2 separate regions of the Homo sapiens genome follow, and region 2 is linked to region 1. The links come from fine-mapping of genetic effects on gene expression. A gene starts in region 1. The other region holds a variant in brackets. All regions are shown on one strand. Distances are between the middles of the regions.

Region 1 (9,307 bases):
GCACAAGTAGGTGCCGCCCTGCTGATGGCTATGACAATCTGAGGGTGATTTTGATCTTACAGCTGGCTTTTTTTTTTTTTTGGAGACAGTCTCGCAGTCTCCCTCTGTCACCCAGGCTACAGTGCAGTGGCATGATCTCGGCTCACTGAAACCTTTACCTCCCGCGTTCAAGCAATTCTCCTGCCTCAGCCTCCTGAGTAGCTGGGATTACAGGTGTGCACCACTACGCCCGGCTAATTTTTGTATTTTTAGTAGAGACGGGGTTTCACCATGTTGGTCAGGCTGGTCTCGAACTCCTGATCTTGTGATCCTCCCATCTCGGTCTCCCAAAGTGCTGGGATTACAGGCATGAGCCACTGTGCGCGCCCGGCCTTTTTTTTTTTAAAGTCTCTTGCCTTTTTTAAGTCTCTTGCCTAGGCTAGAGTGCAGTGGCACCATCACAGCTCTCTGCAGCCTTGACCTCCTAGACTCAAACAATCCTCCTGCCTTAGCCTCCCCAGTAGCTGGGATTACAGGCGCGCACCACCACGCCTGGCTAATTTTCTGTACTTTTTTGTAGAGACGGGGTCTTGATATGTTGCCCAGGCTGGTCTTGAGCTTCTGACCTCAAGTGATGCTCCTGCCTTGGCCTCCCAAAGTACTGGGATTACAGTCGTGAGCCCCCGTGCCTAGCTCTATTGTTTTGTTTGATGTTTTGTTTTGTTTTTTTTTGTTTGAGATGGAGTTTCACTCTGTCGCCCAGGCTGGGGTGCAGTGGCACAATCTCGGCTCACTGCAACCTTCACCTCCAGAGTTCAAGTGATTCTCCTACCTCAGCCTCCCGAGTAGCTGGGATTACAGGCACGTGCTACTGCTCTGGGCTAATTTTTGCATTTTTAGTAGAGATGGGGTTTCGCCATGTTGGTCAGGCTGGTCTCGAACTCTTGACCTCAAGTGATCTGCCCTCCTCAGCCTCCCAAAGTGCTGAGATTACAGGCATGAGCCATCGCGCCCGGCCCTATTATTGCTCTTATTCTCGGACAACCTGAGTAAAGTTGTAGGTGCCAGGTCTGGTTCAGACAGACCCTGGGTGCATCCTGCTGACTTGAGAGAGAGTTGGGGGAGCACTAGAAAATCAGAGAGGGGACCCAGCGTGGTGGCTCACGCCTGTAATCTGAGCACTTTGGGAGGCTGAGGTGGGTGGATCACTTGAGCTCAGGAGTTCGAGACCAGCCTGGACAACATGGTCAAACCCCGTCTCTGCTAAAAATACAAAAACTAGCCAAGAGGGTGGTGCGCACCTGTAATCCCAGCTGCTCTGGAAGCTGAGGTGGGAGAATCCCTTGAACCCGGGAGGCAGACGCTGCAGTGAGCTGAGATTGTGCCACTGTACTCCAGCCTGGGTGACAGAGCAGGACTCGGTCTTGAAAAAAAAAAAAGAAAGAAAGAAAGAAAGAAAGAAAAAGAAAACAAGAAAATCAGAGAGGGGAAGAGGAGAGGGAAAAAGCTAGACGGACAGACACAGGGAGGGAGAAAGAGAGAATCAGAGAGGGAGCAGAGACCAGAGGAAGACAGACAGATGGATAGACAGATGGAGCAGGGCAGACGGCCACACCTTGGTGAACAGGTAGTCCATGTGCCCCAGGCGGCAGCCCTCCTCGTTGAGGGGGATGAAGTTTCCCGTCCGGCGACAGCACAGTGGGGGCCAGGGGAACACCACCTCCGGAGTGGCCGCCCGGAAGGCTGACGTGAAGTTCACCCAGTCCATGGGACCAGATGTGCCACAGCATTCTTGCTAGAGTGAAAAGCAGGGGGTCAGGCAGGCTCGGGCTCAGAGAGGACAGTTGCTTGCCTGAGGTCACACAGCAAGGAGGGGCAGGATTGGCCTTTGACACAGCTGGGCCCAACTTCCCCATGTCCTGGGCCTCCAAGCGAGTGTGTCCGGTGGGTGTCTGTGTGTGTGAGCACGGTGCAGACAATATTTGTCCCAGGACCAGGAGGCTGATGGGGGATTTGGATTAAACCTGCACCTCTGACTTATTTTAAAATATTTTTGCCGGGCACGGTGTCTCACGCCTGTAATCCCAGCTCTCTGGGAGGCCGAGGTGGATGGATCACCTGAGGTCAGGAGTTCGAGACCAGCCTGACCAACATGATGAAACCCCGTCTCTACTAAAAATACAAAATTTGCCGGGTGTGGTGGTGGGCGCCTGTAATCCCAGCTACTTGAGAGGCTGGGGCAGGAGAATTGCTTGAATCCGGGAGGTGGCGACTGCAGTGAGCCAAGATCGTGCCACTGCACTCCAGCCTGGGAATCAAGAATGAAACTCCATCTCAAAAAATAAAATAAAATAAAATATTTTTATCAACAACTATGCTGATAAAATAACACAAAAAGGGCAGATTTCTGGCTTTTCCTGGCCTTGGTAAGGAATCCAGGTGTTTAATTTGTGGCTCCTGAATGAGGAAAACATAGGCTTGGGCACCCTTCAAACATGGGTTCAAATCCTGGCTAGCTAGAGGACTTGGGCCACATTGACGCCTCAGTTTTCCTTGAGTCCTCAATTTCTTCTTCTTTTTTTTTTTTTTTTTTGAGACGGAGTCTCCCTCTGTTGTCCAGGCTGGAGTACAGTGGCGCCATCTTGGCTCACTGCAACCTCCCCCTCCTGGGTTCAAGTGATTCTCCTGCCTCAGCCTCCCAAGTAGCTGGAATCACAGGCGCACACTACTACACCTGACTAATTTTTGTATTTTTTGTAGAGACAGGGTTTCACCATGTTGGCCAGGATGGTCTTGAACCCCTGAACTCAAGTGATCTGCCCGCCTTTGCCTCCCAAAGTGTTGGGATTATAGGTTTGAGCCACTGCACCCAGCCAATTTCTTCCTTTTCCAGTGCAATATCATGTTGGATTTGAGGAAGACTGTATCTCTTCAAACCTGGAAGTCTGAGTTTGAATCCTTCCAGTTCTGTGACCTACCAGGTGTGTGACCTCATGCAAGATATTCAACCTCTTGCTTTGGTCTCCTCATCACTAAAAGGCCGATCTCCCTTATGGAGTGGTCGTGAGGATTAAAAAAGCTTTAAAAGTGCTTTGAAAGGCTGGGCACGGTGGCTCAAGCCTGTAATCCCAGCACTTTGGGAGGCCGAGGCAGGTGGATCACAAGGTCAGGAGATCAAGACCATCCTGGCTAACACCCATCTCTACTAAAAATACAAAAAATCAGCTGGGCGCGGTGGCAGGCGCCTGTAGTCCCAGCTATTCGGGAGGCTGAGGCAGGAGAATAGCGTGAACCCGGGAGGCGGAGCTTGCAGTGAGCCGAGATCGCGCCACTGCATTCCAGCCTGGGCGACAGAGCAAGACTCTGTCTCAAAAAAAAAAAAAAAAAAAAAAAGATAAAAAGAAAAAAAAAAATGTGCTTTGAGGCCAGGCACTCGTGGCTCATGCCTGTGATCTCGGCACTTTGAGAGGCGGAGGTGGGAGAATCGCTCCAATCCTGAGCCCAGGAGTTCCAGACCAGCCTGGGCAATAGAGCAAGACCCCCATCTCCACAAAAGATAATTTAAAAAACTTAGCCGGGTGTGGTGGGGCGCACCTGTATTCCCAGCTACTCGGGAAGCTGAGGCGGGAGGATCACTTGAGCCCAGGAGTTGGAGGTTGCAGTGAGCTATGATCACTCCAGCCTGGGCAACAGAGCAAGACCCCATCTCAAAATATAAAAATAAAAGTCCTTTGAACAGTGTGAAACCTAGCTCAGTGAATGGTGCTGTTACTATCATTGTTATTATCAACATTTCTGTTGAGGTAGTATGTGTAGGCTAAGAGCAGGGAGGTCAGGAGCTAGGCTGCCGGGTTCCAATCCCAGCTCCCACCACTTACCGACTGTGTGGCCTCGGGCAAGGGACTTTCCCTTTCTGGGCCTGTTTACTCATCCGCAGAACGGTGATGACCGCAGCCCTGCTCTCCTAGAGATCTCATGAGCGGATGTCTTTAAGGCACTCACTCCTCTAAAAGCTGGCACATCGGGAGCTCTATCGGCCTCTGTGGACGGAGCCCAGGGCCCTCCCAGCACCCGGTCCACCCCGCCCACCTCAATCATGACGCGGTCCCAGAGGCGGGTCAGCTCCTGGCCCTGGTCGGTGTCCGCGCTGTAGAAGGTCAGCATCTGCTTGGTGATCAGGGATGGGTTGGACACCATCTGAGGAGAACAGGGAAGAACAAGGGCCGGCAGGGCTGGGTGGGGAGAGAGGACGACCTCCGCCCCGCCGCGCCGGGACCCTCGCCCCTCCCATGCAGGTCAGGCCCCTCCCCAGGCCTCGCCGGGCTCACGTAGTCACGGTGGGTGTAGGACGTGATGCAGGAGGCGCACTCGAAGATGTAGACGATGAGCATGAGCACCAGGTACTGGGGAGACAGAGGGAGGACGGCCCGTCGGGCAGAGCCCGTGAAGCCACACCCCGTCAGGGAAGCATCACTGGGGAAATGCAAGTTTTAAAAAAGTTTGGGGCAGTGTGACTAGCAGCATCTATAATATGTGGTGGGTGTTCAGGTGTTCGCTGTATTGTCTTCCAACTTTTCTGTATTTTGAAATATTTAATTTAATTAATTTATTTTTGAGACAGGCGAGGCGTGGTGGCTCACGCCTATAATCCCAGCACTTTGGGAGGCCGAGGGGGCGATCACCTGAGTCAGGAGTTCGAGACCAGCCTGGCCAACATGGTGAAACCCCTTCTCTACTAAAAATACAAAAATTAGGGCTGGGCATTGGTGGCTCACACCTGTAATCCCAGCACTTTGGGAGGCTGAGATGGGAAGATTGCTTGAACCCTGGAGTTCAAGATCAGCCTGGGCAACACAGTGAGACCCCGTCGCTACAAAAAATAAAAATAAAAAAATTAGTTAAGCATAGTTACTACTAGTGGTAGTGTTAGTCCTAGCTATTTGGGAGGCTGAGGTTGGAGGATCGTTTGAGCCCAGTAGTTGGAGGCCTCAGCGAGCTATGATCGCACCACTGCATTCCTGCCTGGGCAACAGAGCAAAACCCTGTCTCTTAAAACAAAACAAACAAGGGTGGGTGCAGTGGCTTACGCCTGTAATCCCAACACTTTGGGAGGTTGAGACGGGTGGATCACCTGAGGTCAGGAGTTCAAGACCAGCCTGACCAATATGGTGAAACCCCATCTACTAAAAATGCAAAAATACAAAAATTAGCTGGGCATGGTGATGGGTGCCTGTAATCCCAGCTACTCAGGAGGATGAGATAGGAGAATAGCTTGAACCCAGGAGGCAGAGGTTGCAATGAGCCGAGATTGTGCCATTACACTCCAGCCTGGGCAACAGAGTGAGACCCTGTCTCTTAAAATAAAACAAACAACATAAAACGATGTTCTCAGATAATCAGAGACATTTGACACAGACTGGGTATTGGAAGATATAGAAGAACTTGATTGAATTTGGTGGGTTGTGCCAACGGCACAGAGGGCAGGAGAAAAAAAAAAGCTTGTCAGTTGATGTTTAATGCAAATTCTTTTCATGTCCTCACCTGGCACCTTCATCTATAAAGCAGCAGGAGGTTGCGTGTGGATGTGTGAACTCTGCTGCTGGGAGATGGATGACATTGCACAACCTCCTGACTGCTTTAAAACAATGTGCTTATCACTCAGAGAAATGTGTGCTCCAGTATTTACAGGCAAGTGACTTGGCATCTAGAATGTGCTTCAAAATACCCAGAAGAAAAAGTATGAGAGAAGGGGGATAGAGGAGACAATGTCGGGCAGTCTGCAGCTGATGTTGTTGAAATCAGGTGAGAGGTATGCAGGGCTCAAATACTGCGGACTCTAGTCTACTTTAGAAATTTCCTGTAAGAAATTTGGGGGCCGGGCACGGTGGCTCATGCCTGTAATCTCAGCACTTTGGGAAGCCGAGGTGGGCGGATCACGAGGTCAGGAGATCGAGACCATCCTGGCTAACACGGCGAAACCCCATCTCTACTAAAAATACAAAAAAAAAAATTAACCAGGCGTGGTGGCAGGTGCCTGTAGTCCCAGCTACTCGGGAGGCTGAGGCAGGAGAATGGCGTGAACCCGGGAGGCGGAGCTTGCAGTGAGCCGAGATCGCACCACTGCACTCCAGCCTGGGCAACTGAGCAAGACTCCGTCTCAAAAAAAAAAAAAAAAAGAAATTTGGGGAGAAAATGTCTTAGTTAATGACAAACTAATGGGGAAACAGACACAATTTTTTTTTTTTTTTGAGACAGAGTCTTGCTCTGTCGCCCAGGCTGGAGTGCAGTGGCGCGATCTCTGCTCACTGCAAGCTGCGCCTCCCGGGTTCACGCCATTCTCCTGCCTCAGCCTCCCGAGTAGCTGGGACTACAGGCGCCCGCCACCACGCCTGGTTAATTTTTTGTTTTTTAGTAAAGACGGGATTTCACCGTGTTAGCCAGGAAGGTCTCGATCTCCTGACCTTGTGATCCACCTGCCTCGGCCTCCCAAACTGCTGGGATTACAGGCGTGAGCCACCGAGCCCGGCCCAGACACAATTTTTAAAACTAGTTGGGTGACTTTTTAGGGCTTTGGTTAAATTGTTATGCCAGATAATTAAATACAGGATAAGAAAATAAGAGGGCAGGTGTGGTGGCTCATGCCTGTAATTCCAACACTTTGGGAGGCTGAGGTGGGAGGCTCACTTGAGGCCAGGAGTTGGAGACCAGCCTGGGCACCATAGTGAGACTCCATCTCTACAAAAAATACAAAAATTAGCTGCACATGGTGATGCACACTTGTAGTCCCAGCTCATTGGGAGGCTGAGGTGGGAGGATCATTTGAGATGAAGAGTTCGAGGTGGCAATGAGCTATGATTGTGCCACTGCACTCCAAACTGGGCAACAGAGTGAGACCCTGTCTAGAGAAACAAAGAAAGGAAGGAAGGAAGGAAGGGAGGGAGGGAGGGAGGGAGGGAGGGAAAGAAGGAAGGGAAGGAAGTCCATGGCTCCATCGTACCCAGGATAAAGCCAAAGTCCACAATACCTGCCTGTCTAGAAAAATGAAGGAAGGAAGGAGGGAGGTGGGGAGGGGAGAGGAGGGGAGGGGAGGGGAAAGGAGGGGAGGGGAGGGGAGAGGAGGCGAGGGGAGGGGAGGGGAGGGGAGGAGTCCATGGCTCCATCTTACTCAGGATAAAGCCAAAGTCCACAACACCTGCCTGTGTAGAAAAACGAAGGAAGGAAGGAAGGAGAGGGGAGGGGAGGGAAGGGGAGGGGAAGGGAGGGGAGGGGAGCAGGGGGTCTATGGGTCCATCTTACTCAGGATAAAGCCAAAGTCCACAACACCTGCCTTCCCTCCTGCTTCTTTCCCATCCCCATTCCTCACTGTTCTCCTCCCCATCTGTCTGCCTCATGTCCTCTCACCCCCCAACCTCCTCCTCACTCAGCTCCAGCTGCTTTGGACTCCTGGCCCGCTCTGGCCTCAGAGCCTTTGCCCTTGCTGCCACCTCCACCTGGAAGGCTCTTCCTCCAGTTACACACCTGCCTCGCTCCCAGTGCCTCTAGGTCTTTGCTTTCCCTGGCAGTGAGGTCTTCCCTCGCCCTCCTCGGCTCCTGACCTCCCCTCCTGTTCACTGTCTTCCTCCTCTGAGCACCACTTCCCTGGGTCAAGGGCTTTTATGTTTCGCTCAGCACAGAGCCCCAGTGCCCAGCGTAGGGCTCAGCATGTAGCTCCTGCTCATAAGCATTTGTTCATCAAATGAGTGGCTGCTTCTGGGAATCTGAAAAACCCTCTGCTGTCGAGGAAACACAGTGCTGTCTCTGTGTCATTGGGGCCGTGAATTGGAATCCCTGCTCTCCTGGTCACCTGGGAGAGGCTGTTAGCCTCTTTGAGCCTCAGTTTCCTCATCTGGTAAATGGGTTGAAAAGCACTAGCTGTGAAGGGCTTCTGGCAAGATTGAGGAAGCTCATTTTCTTTCCTTTTTTTTGAGATGGAGTCTCGCTTTGTCATCCAGGCTGGAATGCAGTGGTGTGATCTTGGCTCACTGCAACCTCTGCCTCCCGGGTTCTAGTGATTCTTCCGCCCCAGCCTCCTGAGTAGCGGGGATTACAGGTGCCTGCCACCATGCGTGGCTAATTTTTTTTTTTTTTTTTTTTTTAGAGATGGGATTTCGCCATGTTGGCCAGTCTGGTCTTGGACTCCCGACCTCAAATGATCTGTCCGCCTCAGCCTCCCCACGTGCTGGGATTACAGGCATGAGCCACTGCGCCTGGCCACGAAGCTCATTTTCTAAACTGCTTACCCTAGTGTCAGGTGCATGAGAGACACTTGGGAAGTATGGGTTATTCTTGTGGGCAGAGATTAAGAGCACAGCCTCAAGAGCCGATCTGCTCAGGTTGAAACTGGCTCTGCCATTGTCTCAATGTGTGACCCTGGATAAGTGACTTCACTTCTCTGAGCCTCAGTTTCAATCTTCATCAAACAGGGTCATGATGATGACAGTATCTCTTGGTGGACTATGAGGAATAAATGAACTAATCCAGTAAACCATTTAGAACAGCTCGTGGCTTGTAGTAAACCATTATTAAATGGTAGCTGTGCTATTATTGGCAGAGTTCATGAGCATGGACTCTGGAAAGCAGCTAGCAGGGGTTCAAATTCTAGCCCTGCACTGGGTGCAGGTAGAGGGGCTCAAGCCTGTAATCCCAGCACTTTGGGAGGCTGAGGCAGGAGAATCATTTGAGCCAGGAGTTTGAGACCAGCCTGGGCAACATAGTGAGACCCCCATCTTTACCAAAAAAAAAAAAAAGAAAAAATCCCAGCTCTGCTACTCAAGCCTGGGTTATTGGGCTGTGGGAAGACTGAATGAGATGATGCCTGGGATCCCTGAGTGTGACACCATGGGGAACTCACACTAGTGGCTGGGGCTGCACCTGCTACTATGACTCAGTGATGCTGAACTCCGTTTTCAGTGTCCCCATCCCCCAACCCCTGGAGTCTCACCGTGAGGACCATGGACCGGCGGCGGCAGAGTGCGGCACCCACACCAAAACTGGCTACCATGAAGAAGGAGAAGCCGCAGAAGATGGCAATCCAGGCACCAGCGAAGACGTCATCCTTGCCTGAGACTCCCATCAGTGGGTATACACGGTACTGGTCGGCTGTCACCCATATGGTCTCAGCAAACAGGGACAGGCCTGACAGCTGGACAGAGCGGTGGGTTAGGAAGGTCTGCTCGGGGCCAGCAGCCCTGGCACCAGGCATCTCCACGAGCAAGTTCCCTCCCCATTTGGAGCCTCCACTGCCCTCTCAGTAAAGTGGGCAAAGACCTCGCCTTCCATGAGCAGCGAT
Region 2 (9,470 bases), 76 kb after region 1:
GCCCAAGTAGATGCTTAGAGCCAAGGTAAATTGCACTGTGGTGTATATTTGGTGGTTTGTTCAAGAGCTGGGAAGCAGTTTACAATCTAAGTAAGTATATCAGGTAGGTGTACAAGATGGTACCTAAGATTCCCACAGTGATGCTCGCGATGGCCCAGTAGTAGGCTTGTTTGGAGGTCTTGGCTGCCAGCTCATAGTCACTGGATTTATTGTAGTTCTTTGTCTACAATACAAACTTTGTCTGAGTTTTAGGAGAGAGGGAACAGGGAAAGATGAGTATAAAAGAGTTATTGCGTGGCCGGGCATGGTGGCTCATGCCTGTAATCCCAGCACTTTGGGAAGCTGAGGTGGGCAGATCACCTGAGGTCAGGTGTTCAAGACCAGCCTGGCCAACATGGTGAAACCCAGCTCCACCAAAAATACGAAAATTAGCCAGGCGTGTTGGTGGGCGCCTCTAATCCCAGCTACTCAGGAAGCTGAGGCAGGATAATTGTTTGAACCTGCGAGATGGAGGTTGCGGTGAGCTGAGATCTCACCACTGCACTCCAGCTTGGGTGACAGAGCGAGACTCTGTTTCAAAAAAAAAAAAAACAGTTGTTGGGTGAGGGTGGGCTGTGGAACTGTAAGGACTCAGGGTGGGGGTCTGAACCCACAGGAGGTGCTGGTGTTGCTCAGGCTCCTAGTTCAGAAGGGAGAACAAGGAAGAAGTTGAGTCAGGGTCAGGGGCAAGATGGAGAGGGAGGGTGAAGGATTGGCATGATGCAGGTGCCCACCAGGCAAGAAAAGATCACGGCTGGGATGGCTAGGGGAAGGCAACAGAAGAGGCCCAGGATGGACAGGCAGAGGTAGTCGCTGGATTCATCCTCATCAGACATCAGTTCAAACACCTGGGGGGCAGAGAGTTGGTTATGTCTCACTATGGCTTCTGAACTCTAACAATCCTTTCTCACTCTCTCCCTACTTACCCTAACACATCTCTCCTTGGCAGCTATATGATCTTCATTGACCCCATTTAAAATTCTCATTGACTTTCTCTAACCCCCACCATGTCTCCTCTAACCTCTCTCTATCCCTTTTTTTTATTTTTTATTTTATTTATTTATTTTTTTGAGACGGAATCTCGCTCTGTCATCCAGGCTAGAGTGCAGTGGTGCGATCTTGGCTCACTGCAAGCTCTGCCTCCCAGGTTCATGCCATTCTCCTGCCTCAGCCTCCCGAGTAGCTGGGACTACAGGCGCCCGCTACCACGCCTGGCTAATTTTTTGTATTTTTAGTAGAGACGGGGTTTCACCGTGTTAGCCAGGATGGTCTCAATCTCCTGACCTCGTGATCCACCTGTCTCAGCCTCCCAAAGTGCTGGGATTACAGGCGTGAGCCACCGCGCCCGGCAAATCCCTTTTATTTTTTGAGACAAGGTCTTGCTCTCTCACTCAGGCTGAAGTGCACTGGCATGATCACAGTTCACTGCAGCCTCGAACTCCTGGGCTCAAGCAATCCTCCTGCCTCAGCCTCCCACGTAGCTGGTACAAACCACCACACCCAGCTAATTTTTGATTTTTGTTGTTGTTGTAGAGATGGAATCTCATTATGTTGCCCAGGCTTGTCGTGAACTCCTGGCCTTAAATGATCCTTCTGCCTTGATCTTTCAAAGTGCTAGGATTATAGGTGTGAACCACCATGCCTGGCCTCTGTATCGCTCTTATTTATTTACTGAGACAGAGTCTCAGTCTTTTCTCCAGGCTGGAGTACAATGGTGTGATCTCAGCTCACTGCAACCTCTGCCTCCTGGGTTCAAGCAGTTCTCGTGCCTCAGCCTCCTGAGTAGTTGGGATTACAGGCATGTGCTACCATGCCCAGCTAATTTTTGTATTTTTAGTAGAGTTGGGGTTTCACCATGTTGGCCAGGCTGGTCTTGAACTCCTGACCTCAGGTGACCCACCTGCCTTGGCCTCCCAAAGTGCTGGGATTACAGGCATGAGCCACCACACCCAGCCCTTTCTTATTTACTTATTTTTTATTTTTGAGACAAAGTCTCACTATGTCACCCAGGCTGGAGGGCAGTGGCACGATCTCGCCTCACTGCAGCCTCTGCCTCCTGGGCTCAGGCAATTCTTATGCCTCAGCCACTTGAGGAGCCGGGATTACAGGTGTGCACCACTATGCCCGCTAATTTTTGTATTTTTAGTAGAGACTGAGTTCATCGGTCTGGTAGTTGGCCAGGCTAGTCTTGAACTCCTGGCCTTGAGTGATCCTCCCACCTCGGCCTCCCAAAGTGCTGGGATTACAGGCGTGAGCCACCACGCCCGGCCCATAGCTCCTCTTGTAACCTGTTAAATATATGTGTTTAACCACCCTGTCATCATATCTCCACAGGAGCTCCAGGTACAATTGACAGCTGGGAATGTGCCTGACAATTAAGACTAAATGCTGTGTACACATCTCAGATAATTCAGTAAATGTCTCAATAGCCCTGAGAGACATGCACCTAAAAATCAAAGCTATGTCTGACCCCACATTATCACCAGGTCAATGGTTGGCATCCTGTTGCAGGTGAGGACTGTTCTCACCTGGAAAGAAGCTATTTACAACTTTGGCCCTAGTTGCAATGATAGACATACTTCTCTGCTGTGGATTTTTCTGCTGTTTCACCTTCTATATGGGAATGCAAGACAGACTTCCCCAGAGACTTTCCAGACCTTACACCATATTGGTCCAACTACTCATAAATATTTCCAACTCCAAGTGGATCGGTTCCATTCTGATGACTAATCACAATGCCCTCTTTCAGCAGGAAGTAGCCAGCATGAATGTGGCATCCAAATCCCATAGAAATGGAATGGAATTTGACAGTGGGAAACTGTAATTGAGTACCACATTTTTTTTTTTTGAGACAAAGTCTTGCTGTGTCGCCCAGGCTGGAGTGCAGTGGCGTGAGCTCAGCTGCAACCTCCGCCTTGTGGGTTGAAGCGATTCTCCTGCCTCAGCCTCCCAAGTAGCTGGGACTACAGGCACCTGCCACCACGCCCGGCTAATTTTTGTATTTTTAGTAGAGACGGGGTTTCACTGTGTTGGCCAGGCTGGTCTTGAACTTCCGACCTTGTGATCTGCCTGCCTCAGCTTCCCAAAGTGCTGGGATTACAGGTTTGAGCCACTGTGCCTGGCCAGAGTACCCCATTTTTAAAGAAAAAAAAGGATTTTTTTCCTTTTTCTTTTCCCCCCATCTCCTACTTAACTCTTTAGGAATGCAACTGTAACCTCCCTACATGGCAAGCTTATCTAACAATATGTTTACTTAGAAGTTCCAGGGACTGAACCTTGAAACAAATCAGGCACCCCCAGAATTCTCTCCCATCAGATTGCCTTGAGACAATGGTCAATTTCTCTTCTCACGATGGTGACAGCTAGAACACCTGATAGATAAGACATCAAAGCATGTCACATAGACCCCACACCTCCTTGCCCCCCACCTTTATGTCATTCACATCAAGCCCCCCTTTAAAAGTCCCTGCTTTCTGTCCTGAAAGCTGAAGCAATACCCTTAAGGCAGGAACCTGTACCTCTTCCCCTCACCTGAGCTCTGGAATAAAGTCACCTTCTTTCTACCAGAACTTGCTCTTGTTAATTGGACTCTGCAAGCGTGGAGTGACTGGACCTGTGTTTGGGTATAAAACCTTCATTATAAATTCACTGTTCCCTTATAAAACTCTCACCCTGTAAAACTTCTTTGTCTTCTGTTTTTTTTTTTTTTTTTTTTTTTTTTTCAGAGACAGGGTCTTCTCTCCCAGGCTGTAGGAGTGCAAAGGCACAATCATAGCTCAGTGCAGCCTCAAACTCCTGGGCTCAAGTGATCCTCCTGCCTCAGCTTCCTGAGTGGCTGGGACTACAGGTGCACACCACCAGGCCCAGCTAACTAAAATTTTGTTTTGTTTTGTTTTTGTTTTGCTGGGTGTGGTGGCTGACGCCTGTAATCCCAATACTTTGGGAGGCCGAGGTGGGCGGATCACCTGAGGTCAGGAGTTTGAGGCCACCTTGGCTAACATAGTGAAACCCCGTCTCTACTAAAAATACAAAAATTAGCCGGGCGTGGTGGCACGCACCTGTAATCCCAGCTACTTGGGAGGCTGAGGCAGAACTCGGGAGGTGGAGGTTGAAGTGAGCCAAGATCCTGCCACTGCACTCCAGCCTGGGTGACACAGCGAGACTCTCTCAAAAAAAAAAAAAAAAAAAAAAAATTTTTTTCTTTTGGTAGAGATGGGGTTTTGCTACAATGTTGCCCATGCTGGTCTTGAATTCCTGGGCTCAGGTGATCCTCCCACCTCTGCCCCCCAAAGTAAAACTTCTGTTAGCTCTCTCACTGTTCCTTTTATAATATCCTTTACTTCGTCCCTATGAATCCTGCGGGGTCCTGCTGTAAACCTTTCCTGTTCGCCCATAAGCTCCCTGCCCCTTTAGCTCCTCTAAGACCTTATTTGACCACCTATTCACTCCTCTTGCTGGGACTATAGGCGCCCGCCACCACGCCCGGCTAATTTTTGTATTTGTAGTAGAGACAGGGTTTCAGTCTCTACTTCTTTGTCACCTTACAAAGTCCTGCCCTGTCTCCCTCTAACACCTCTCAACTTCTGAAACCAGCTTTCTGACTCTTTGAACTCCCTCTCCAACCACGTACAACAGCCTTCCTGTTCTAAACCCGTGCCCTTGTGACATATGTCTGTGTCCACT[T/G]ATATCACCCCTGAGGTTCCTTTATGATACCCTTTCTGCTCTCATCATTTCCCCTCTACTCTAACACTCCTCCTCCTACTCCTGCCCTCCTGGAACATTCCCAGGAGGGCACCTAGGTCTGGCACTATGCTCTTCCTTGATCACCAACCACAGGGGATTACCATGGCGGCCAGGCAGGCCCCGCCTCCTAGCCTGTCTCTCTACTTCTACTGGCCAATTGGAGGTGGTATGTCATAGGGTGGGAACCAACACCTGGCTTCTGATTGGTTTGATGGGGTGACAGCTCCTTCTACTCTCTCAAGTGATTGGCCAATTGAGGAATCCCTGGTTCCACCTTCAAAACAGACCTATAAATAAGCCTCATTTCCTTGATCATCTTTGTTTAAAGATTCCTCCTGAGCATCTTGAGAGAAAAGCACTACTTGGGGCAAGAGTGATGTAGGCCTCGGAGTCTTGTGTTTCAGGAAAAACACAATGCATTTTCTCTGCTCTCATACCACAACAGTCAACACAGAAGAGTTCTTTGATCAAATGTGTGGGTTCCCCCCTTTTTCCCCACCCCCTCAAGCCCCTCCAACACCAAGCAAACAATCATTTCTTTTCTTCCTTCCTTTCCTTTCCTTTCTTTCCTTCATTCTTTCCCCCTTCCCTTCCCCTCCCCTCCCTTTCCCTTTCCCCTTCCCTTCCCCTTCCCCTTTCCCTTTCCCTTTCCCTTCCCTTCCCTCTTTTCTTCCTTTTCCTTCTCTTCTTTCTTTTCCTTCTTTCTTCTTGCTCTGTCTTCCAGGCTGGAGTGTGGTGATGTGATCTTGGCTCACTGCAACCTCCGCCTCCTGGGTTCAAGTGATTCTCCTGCCTCAGCCACCTGAGTAGCTGGGACTACAGGTGCGCACCACCATGCCTGGCTAATTTTTTGTATTTTTAGTAGAGACGGGGTTCTGCCATGTTGACTAGGCTGGTCTCGAACGCCTGACCTTAAGTGATCCGCCTGCCTTGGCCTCCTAAAGTTCTAGGATTACAGGCATTACGCCCGGCCTACTTCTATTTTTTAAGTTTTTAATTTTTTTATTTTTTGAGACAGAGTCTCACTCTGTTGTTCAGGCTGGAGTGCAATGGCGTGATCTCGGCTCACTGCAACCTCCGCCTCCTGCATTCAAGTGATTCTCCTGCCTCAGCCTCCCAAGTAGCTGGGATTACAGGCACCTGCCACTATGCCTGGCTAATTTTTGTATGCTTAGTAGAGACTGGGTTTCACCATGTTAGTGAGGCTGGTCTCGAACTCCTGACCTCAGGTGATCAGCCCATCTTGGCCTCCCAAAATGCTGGGATTGCAGGAGTGAGCCACCGCGCCTGGCCTACTTCTATTTTTTTTAAGACAAGGTTTTGTTCTGTTGCTAGTCTGGAGTGTAGTGGTGTGAACACGGCTCACTGCAGCCTTGACCTCCTGGGCTCAAACAACCTCCTGCCCCAAACTTCTGAGTAGCTGGGGCTACAGGTGCAAGCCACCATGCCAGGTTAATTTTGAAATTTTTTGCAGAGATGGGGTCTCACTATGTTGCCCAGGCTGATCTTGAACTCCTGGGCTCAAGTTATTTATGTATGTATTTATTTGAGACAGGGCCTCACTCTGTCACCCAGGCTGGAGTGCAGTGATGTGATGATGGCTCACTGCAGCCTCGACTTCCTGGGCTCAGGTTATCCTCCTGCCTCAGTCTCCCAAGTAGCTGGGACTATAGGCGTGTGCCACCACACCCAGCTAACTTCTTTGTATTTTTAGTAGAGACGGAGTTTCACCATGTTTTCCAGGCTGATCTCAAACTCCTGGGCTCAAGTGATCCACCCACCTCGGCTTCCCGAAGTGCTGATATTACAGGCATGAGCCTTTGAACCTGGCTATTTTTTTTTTTTGAGATGGAGTCTCCCTCTGTCGCCAGGCTGGAGTGCAGTGGTGCGATCTCGGCTCACTGCAACCTCTGACTCCCTGGTTCAAGCGATTCTCCTGCCTCAGCCTCCCTAGTAGCTGGGATTGCAGGCATCCGCCACCACGCCCAGCTAATTTTTGTATTTTTAGTAGAGACAGGGTTTCACCTTGTTGGCCACGATGGTCTCCTGACCTCGTGATCTGCCTGCCTTGGCCTCCCAAAGTGCTGGGATTACAGGTGTGAGCCAACGCGCCCGGCTCTGGCTATTTTTTTTTTAAGTGCATTATGAAAATATTTTATAACTTGTGTGTTTAGATCATGTGCCTTAAATATGATTATTGGTATGTTTTGCTTTAGGTCTACTATTATTTGTTTTTTATTTCCACTTTTCTGTGTTTTGTTCCTTGTTTTCCCTTTTCCTTCTTTCTTTTGGATTATTCAAATACTATTTTAGTACTCCATTTTAATTTATTTATTGTGATTTTCACTATATATCTTTGCAAGTTTTAAGTGATTGCTCTACGGATTATGGTAAACACACTTAAACATTCTATAGTCTACCTAGATTGAATATTTTGCAACTTCAAGTGGAATATGGAAAACTTCCACCATATTGGTCCCTTCATTGTCTCCCATGTATGCGTTAGCTTTCACATGCATTATAAAGACATGTATTGAAAATACATCCGTCCAGGGCTGTGGCTCACGCCTGTAATCCCAGCACTTTGAGAGGCTGAGGTAGGTGGATCACCTAAGGTCAGGAGTTCAAGACCAGCCTGGCCAACATGGTGAGACCCCGTCTCTACTAAAAATACAAAAATTAGCTGGGCATGGTGGTGGGCGCCTGTAATCCCAGCTACTAGGGAGACTGAGGCAGGAGAATCGCTTGAACCCAGGAGGTGGAAGTTGCAGTGAGCCAAGATCACACCACTGCACTCCAGCCTGGGTGACAGAGTGAGACTCTATCTCCAAAAAAAAAAAAAAAAGAAAAAAAAAAAACGAAAAGAAAAACGCCAGGCACGGTGGCTCATGCCTGTAATCCCAGCACTTTGGGAGGTTGAGGAGGGCAGATCCCGAGGTCAGGAGATCGAGCCCATCCTGGCTAACAAGGTGAAACCCCGTCTCTACTAAAAATACAAAAATTTAGCTGGGCGTGGTGGCGGGTGCCTGTAGTCCCGGCTACTCGGGAGGCTGAGACAGGAGAATGGCGTGAACCCGGGAGGCGGAGCTGGCAGTGAGCCGAGACCACACCACTGCACTCCAGCTTGGGTGACAGAGTGAGACTCCATCTCAAAAAAAAAAAAAAAAAAAAAAACCCTCCCAAAGTGCTGGGATTACAGGCGTGAGCCACCATGCCCAGCAGTCATTCCTTTCAATGGCAAAAACCGCAATTATTTTTGCATCAACTACACACACAGACACACACACACACACATATCTCATGTCACCTGCAGATACAGTTTTATTTCTTCCTTTCCAATCTAAATGCCTTTTTTTCTTTTTTGAGACAGAGTCTCACTCTATTCCTCAGGCTGGAGTGCAGTGTTGGTGTGATCATAGCTCACTGCAGTCTCAAAGTCCTGGGCTCAAGTGATCTCCCTGCCTCAGCCCCCTGAGCAGGTAGGACTACAGGCATGTGCCACCATGCTTGGCTAATTTTTTAATATTTTTTGTAGAGATGGGGTCATGCTGTGTTGCCTAGGCTGGTCTTGACATCCTAGTCTCAAGTGATCCTCCTGCCTCCCAAAGTGTTAGGATTACAGACGTCAGCCACTGCGCCGGGCCCTGTTTGCGTTTTTTTCTTGCAGTGACTAGAACTTCCAGCACTATGTCAAATAGGAGTGTCAAGAGCAGACATCCTTTCCTTGTTGTTGATCTTATAGGGAAAGTATTCCATCCTTCATCATTAAATATGATATATATTTGGTGTGTTTAAATCTATTATTGTTATTACTATTATTATTATTATTATTATTTGAGACGGAGTTTTGCTCTTGTTGCCCAGGCTGGAGTGCAATGGCGCCATCTCGGCTCACTACAACCTCCGACTCCCGAGCTCTAAGCGATTCTCCTGCATCAGCCTCCCGAGTAGCTGGGATTACAGGTGACTGTCACCACGGCTGGCTAATTTTTATATTTTTAGTAGAGACGAGGTTTCACCATGTTGGCCGGGCTGGTCTCGAACTCCTGACCTCAATTGATTTACCTGCCTCAGCCTCCCAAAGTCCTGGGATTACAGGAGTGAGCCACCGCGCCTGGCCGTTATTAATATTTTTGATGTTTAAGTTGTACCACTCTGGGCCAGTGGGCGCTCCTTCAAGTTAGCTTCTATGTCGAAAATAAAAATGATTTGTTAAGAGAAAGGTAAGTGATTAACAAGTGACTCCAGCAGGTAAAAAGATTGAATTGCTACTAACGGTCGATGGGAGGCAGTGTTGTCCACCTAGTGCTTAAGAACACGGCTTTTGGTGGCAGATTTCCTGGTTCCCAATCCTGGCCCCTCAGTGAATTCGCTGTGAGACCTGCACTGTGTCTTTCCAGCTCCCTGTGCTTTATCCTCAGTCTGTAAGAATGCAGGCTATAGGGTTAGTGTGGAGACCAAAAGAATCAATACTCCGAAGCTGCTCATAACAGTGGCTTGTACTTGACTCCGAGAGTTGCTGCTTTCACCATCATAGTGAAGACAAAGTACTCAAAATCTGCTACACGAAAAAGATTACAGGCCCAGAAGATTTTGCAGGCATGTTCACTCCAACTTTTTTTTTTTTTTTTGGAGATGGAGTTTCGCTCTTGTCACCCAGGCTGCAGTGCAATGGCGTGATCTTGGCT

What was found. PIP is the estimated chance that this variant, and not a neighbour inherited with it, causes the effect.
Region 2: its variant is the best candidate, but not a certain one, in a credible set for the expression of UPK1A-AS1 in whole blood (TOPMed, PIP 0.89).

The regions. Positions count from the first base shown.
Region 1 is chr19:35,668,307-35,677,613 of GRCh38, reverse strand. UPK1A-AS1 (UPK1A antisense RNA 1) reads left to right here and starts at 4,323. Exons shown (of 2, transcript NR_046420.1): 1 at 4,323-4,379; 2 at 8,929-9,307. It overlaps UPK1A (uroplakin 1A), which reads right to left. Exons shown (of 8, transcript NM_007000.4): 3 at 8,960-9,160; 4 at 4,308-4,382; 5 at 4,069-4,176; 6 at 1,595-1,774.
Region 2 is chr19:35,592,058-35,601,527 of GRCh38, reverse strand. LINC01766 (long intergenic non-protein coding RNA 1766) reads right to left here and starts at 3,633. Exons shown (of 3, transcript NR_110750.1): 1 at 3,571-3,633; 2 at 774-887; 3 at 27-223. RefSeq lists an enhancer at 4,737-4,876. The variant T/G (reference allele first, on the strand shown) is at 4,723.